2 separate regions of the Homo sapiens genome follow, and region 1 is linked to region 2. The links come from fine-mapping of genetic effects on gene expression. Tissue or cell type: whole blood. Region 2 holds a variant in brackets; the other region holds the start of a gene. All regions are shown on one strand. Distances are from middle to middle.

Region 1 (2,660 bases), 78 kb after region 2:
CTGCCCTAAAGCCTGGGTGACAAAGCAAGACTCCGTCTCAAAAACAAAAACACTGTGGTTGTATTTCTCAGATAAATTAATCCAAATATCCCAATAAATTTTCACCATTAATAAGCTCTTAGGACTTAACAACCTCACCAGCCCTTCCAGAAAGTTATCAAAATCCCACTTCTTTACTTCTATAAAACAGAGCGATACTAGCCAGCAGGTGCACAAACCAAACCTAATTTGGAGTTCTGAGGCCTTGAGCAAATTGCTTTTTAGCAATTTTCCCAGCGTTGAATCCTTTGGTGAGTAAAACGAGGGAAACTCAAAGTGATTCCACACTCTGTGGTGAATTGTCTCCTTCATCTATTCTGTGTATCCTGCTTGGGTAGAGAAGAGGATAGAAAGCCAGACTAGGTAGGAGACGTTTCATTTTTTGTGGGATAGATCCTGACTGGGGGATTAGGGAAGAAGGAGGATCTATGGTGGAAAAAAAGGGGGAACCTGAAGGAGACTCTGGAGACAAGGATGAGATCCTAAAGTGAAGAAAGGAGGGGGTGTCTCTGGAAAGACAGTGAAGATCCCAAGGTCCTAGGGAAAGAACTTCAGGACAGGTGATTAGGGTGTGGAGAGGGAGGCATTGGCACCCTAGGGCCAAGAATGGAATTCTGGGGAAGGAACTCTGTGGAAAGACTGAAAAGGATGCTGAAGGTGGACGGCCAGATATGAAATCATGGAGGGGGCTCCGGGAAAAACAGGAGGGTTAAGGGAGATTATGAGGTTCGAAGACGGGATCCTGGTGGAAAAGCCTTCTGTGACAGAAAGACCCGAGGAGACAACGAGGGCGGGGAATGGGGACCGAGAGAGCCAAGAATGGCACCCTGGCGGAAGAATTCTGTGGAGAAACCTGGAGGGAGGGGGTATCTACAAGGTGGGGGCGGGAGACCCCTAAAATCAGCGATCTGACTTACTTTCTCCGCTGGACTTGTACTGCTTTAAACACATCTTCACGTTTCAGCACCACGAAGTCGCCGTCGCGGATGCGGTGGTCTCCGGGATGCTGTGGTTGTGGGCCCGGCTGCTCCCCTGAGCCCTCCATGACGCTCAGCCGGTCGCCGTGCTCCACGGCGTCCCGCCCCTCCTCCTCGGTTGTCGCCACCGCCAGCCTCACTTCCCACAACCTGGCGCACTAGGAGCCCTCCGACCGGCACCGCCCCCACGTGTTGCACGCCGCTTCCGCTTTCCGGCCCAGACCTCAAGACCGCTTCCGGAAGCCTCTCGGCTTCCGTCTGGCCAAACTCCTTGATTGGCTGCACTCCGCCCCGCCCCTCTCGTCTTGCCGCTTCTTTGAGCGGAAGTTGGATCACTGAAGCGCCAAAAAAGAATTTAGGGGAAGACCTGATTTTCGCTTGAGGCATTTTTGCGGCGCTGTGCGCTACAGACACCTTCTGGAAGCTGCGGTGGGGAAACTGAGTTTCCCGAGCCGTTGAGACAGATGGGGTTCAGCACCGCGCGGGGACGACAGGAAAGCTGCGGCTGAAGAGAACTGCGGACTTGGCAGGAGTCGCCTGAGGAGCTAAGATCCCGGAGACTCTTAGCCCCGTGGTGCTTCTCTACGGGAGGGAGGGAGGGAGAATCCGGCCGGACAGATCTGCGCGTATCCTGGAGCCGGCCCAGTTGTGAACTAGGAGAGCTTTGGGACCTCTGTCCCAAGCAAGTAAGAACTTTAGCCTTAGGAGATGTAAATAAAGTAGTATTTGAAGAAGCACAGGTACCCAACTGTTTCTTTTTACTCTTTCTCCAGTCCTACTTCTTAACGTTTTTTTGAATTTGTTACTGTTCTCAGCATATTGTCTCGTTTGAGAAGGGTATGGCACGCAGCGTTGTTGAAGGAGCGCCTCAGCTTGGGAGGCTGAAAGTTTTATCTCTGTACTGTCGACAAACAACTTTGATCTTGATCGGTTTGCTTAATTTCTTTGAGCATCAGTTTCATAATGTGTAATGCCTAATTATTGGAGCCCTGTCATGCCGTTAAATCGTGAACTTTCTAGTTACTATCTTGTTTTATTAACTAAACCCCTTTTAAGTAAGGATTTGGGTAGAGTATTTGATAATGAATTGCACTGCAGCGTACAGGTATATCTTTATTTACTTGTATACTTAGGATATGAATCATTTTTAAGTAGACGTGTATTTTATAAGAACAGTTTTGGATTTACAGAAAAACTGCACAAAAAATGGATGTGACACTGCAGGATTGACTGTATGTAAGAAGCTATGATGATGTATCCCTAGTGTCTCACAGGCCAGAATTATGTTCATCCTGTCCTGCCCTATAATAAGAAGTCTCAAATACTGCAAATAAGTTTTCATAGAGTTAATTACCTGTCCTATTTTCATTTCTGTAATGGGGACTTGTAAACAGGTACAGTACCTGTCCTTATTTTTAACCTGTGAGCGTCTAGTATACGTAAACCATATTTAATAGTTATTAAACTATTATGGTATACCTTAAAAAGCGATAGAGATTAGAAACTTAACTGCAGAATATTTGGGTCTTGTATCATAGCTGTACAACTTTGCAAGCCTGTTTGCTACTCTTGAACCTAGAATACATTAATTTTTCCCTTTTTATTAATACATTTTTAAGAGCACTATTTTCCTTACAGTTTTGG
Region 2 (2,845 bases):
AGTTAGAATCCCGGTATGCAAAAATGTCTAACCCTGCCCTGATTTTCACATTATTTTCCCACTATCTCATATCCTCAAGCCCTCTCCTTTTTCCTCTCTCTTTTTCACCATATATTTAAAGGTCTTCATTATTTTAAGAAAATTGTGCACACACACATATTCATGCACTTTTAAAAACTTGATTTAATCATGGTTTACTTCTGTTCAGCTTTTCCTCTCCCCTTTGGTACCATCTTCTAGACCCACAACCAAAACACAAGAAGCTGCTGGAATTTGGAAGACCTAGGTTGGGAACCCCTGGCTTAAACCAACAAGCATGTGGTAAAAATCCTGAGGCAACTTCCAGTTTCAGGAGAAGATGTTATAGACTTACTTTTTCTGGCTTCTTGTTAAACACAACCAAGTACCACGGAAAGAATTCAGCAATCATAAAAGGACTCTGAATGGCAGAAAGAAGATGGATGGACTAGGGACTCAGGACTTGAAGAATAACCCAACAGTTGGTTTTCTGGATTTTCTTTATCTTCCATATATCCTGGACACCAGCCAGCCTGAAACCACAGACAGGCATAGGAGAGAGAAAGAGAGGGAAGGGAGGGGAGGGAAGGGGGAAGAAGGGGGAAGGGGGAAGAAGGGGGAAGGGGGAAGGGGGAAGAAGGGGGAAGGGGGAAGGGGGAAGAAGGGGGAAGGGGGAAGGGGGAGGAAGGGGGAAGAAGGGGGAAGGGGGAAGGGGTCTTCTCCCTCTGGCTAAGGGACCAGGAAAGGAGAACTCAGTGAGGAGAGCCACACCCAGTGGCAGTGGTGGACCCAATCTGCTCACAGCACTAGCACCAGCAGAAATGAGCTTCCAACCACTCCCCTACTCCACAGCCACAGACAGCAGCAGGCCAGTATCCCTGCAGCAGTGGCAACAGAAGAATCCAAACGGGCCAACCCACTTCACATCCCATCTCCACCAGCAGCAGGGGGCTCAATCTGCCCGTATTAGTGGTAACAGTGAAACCCATGCAGGCCAGGTCATCTACTGCTCCACACCAGGTGACAGCAGGTAGGCTCCTTCACTTGCACAAGCAGTGCCAGCAGGTCTGGTGTCTTTCAGCCATTCACGCAGAGGCAGAAGGCGATCTAGGGCATCCCCCACACCCACATAATGACACCAGTCAACCTAG[A/G]GCAGTGCCTTCTGCCTCTGTAGGCACCATATGTAGCAACCCAGTAGGAGCTTAAGCAGAGCCCCAAGAGCAAAGCAGACCAGAATAGCACTGCGAAGGCTCAGAAAACACAACTGTCGTTAAAACTATAGCCCACAAAAGTAGGCAAAACTGACACCATAAACCTAAACAGGGCGGTTGCCTGCTAAAATAGAAGATTTATACAGAATCAAGAGTCTCGTAACATAATGTGCAGAATGTCCAGGATACAATTGAAAATGACTTGTCATACCAAGAACCAGGAAAATCACAACTGGAGCGAGAAAAGGCAATCAGCTGACATTGATAGTGAGATGAATCAGATGGTGGAACTATCTGCAAAGATTTTAAAGCAACTCCCATAATGTAGTTTCAGTAAGCAGTTATAAAATCCTTTGAAACATGAAAAAATAGAAAACCTCAGCAAATAAATAGAAGTTACAAAAAGAACCAAATGGAAATCACAGAATTGAAACATGCAGCAACAAAATTTAAAAACTCACCAGGTGGGCTCAGCGGTAGCGTGGAGATGACAAAAGATAAAGTCACTGACCTTGAGGACAATTCCACTGAATTTATTCAATTTGATCAACAGAGAGAAGACGGATGAGGTAGAGGATGGGAGGGAAGGAAGGAACTACGAGACAATAACAGAAGACCTAACATTCAGAGCCCCAGAAAGACTCCAGAAAGATTTGAGGGCTAAACAAGTATTCAAAACATAAGGGCTGAAAACTTCCCAAATTTGGTGAAAGACAGAAACCTACAGATTCACAAAGCTAAGTGAACCCGAAATAGGACTGATCAAAAGAAATCCTCACCAAAACACATTATAATTAAACTTCTGAAGATGAAAGAAAAAAATCTTAAGAGCAACCAAGGAGGAATGCATTATCTATAGGCAAATACCAATTTGAATGAGAACAGATTTTTCATCTGAAACCAGGGAGGCCAGAATGAAGTGGCTCAACATTTTTCAAGTGCTGAAAGAGAAGAACTGTCAACCATGAATTCTACATACAGTGAAACTGTATTTTAAGAATGAAGGAGAAATAAGACAATGTGTGGCCAGCAGTCCTACCCTTAAAGAATGCCTAAAGGAAGCTCTCCAAACAGAAAAGAAATGCCAAAAGAAGACTGGAAGTTCAGAAAAGAAAGAACAACAGAAGGGATAAAAAGAAAAGAAAATATAATAGACTATTCTTCTCCTTATGAGTTTCTTAACTCATATTTGATAGCTGAGGCAAAAAATACAACATCTATTGTGGTGCTTAATAGATGCAGAGGAAATACTTGAGGTAATTATACTTAAAAAGAGAGGCAGGTTACAATATCATGATGTAATAAAAGATACATATTTGTCTCTGGCTCTAGTTTCTCGCACAGAGCTGCTAAAACCATTGTAAAGTCCTGAGCAAAAGACATGCCAAGTGCATCTTTTGTTCTAATATTTGGTCTTTTTTTTTTTTTTTTTTTTTTTTTTTTAGATGGAGTCTCACTCTGTCGCCCAGGCTGGAGTGCAGTGTAATATTTGGTCTTTAAGCCCAGGTCCTGACACAGAGCTCCTAATACCATGGAATTTCCTGGGGGATGGGAGGGTCTTTTGTTCTATTGAGGCAACTCTTGGTGGATTCCTAGGTGGAGGCTGGTGACCAGAA

What was found. PIP is the estimated chance that this variant, and not a neighbour inherited with it, causes the effect.
Region 1: it holds the start of TRMT6, and the variant in region 2 is fine-mapped to the expression of TRMT6 in whole blood (INTERVAL, PIP above 0.99). The same link has a PIP of 0.9 or more in neutrophils.

Annotation. Positions count from the first base shown.
Region 1 is chr20:5,949,322-5,951,981 of GRCh38, forward strand. TRMT6 (tRNA methyltransferase 6 non-catalytic subunit) reads right to left here and starts at 1,212. Exons shown (of 11, transcript NM_015939.5): 1 at 957-1,212. The coding sequence starts at 1,084. MCM8 (minichromosome maintenance 8 homologous recombination repair factor) reads left to right here and starts at 1,331. Exons shown (of 19, transcript NM_032485.6): 1 at 1,331-1,702. RefSeq lists an enhancer at 1,208-1,347.
Region 2 is chr20:5,871,128-5,873,972 of GRCh38, forward strand. No RefSeq gene overlaps it. Among named protein-coding and RNA genes, the nearest start is that of CHGB, 39 kb to the right of the region's middle. The variant A/G (reference allele first, on the strand shown) is at 1,170.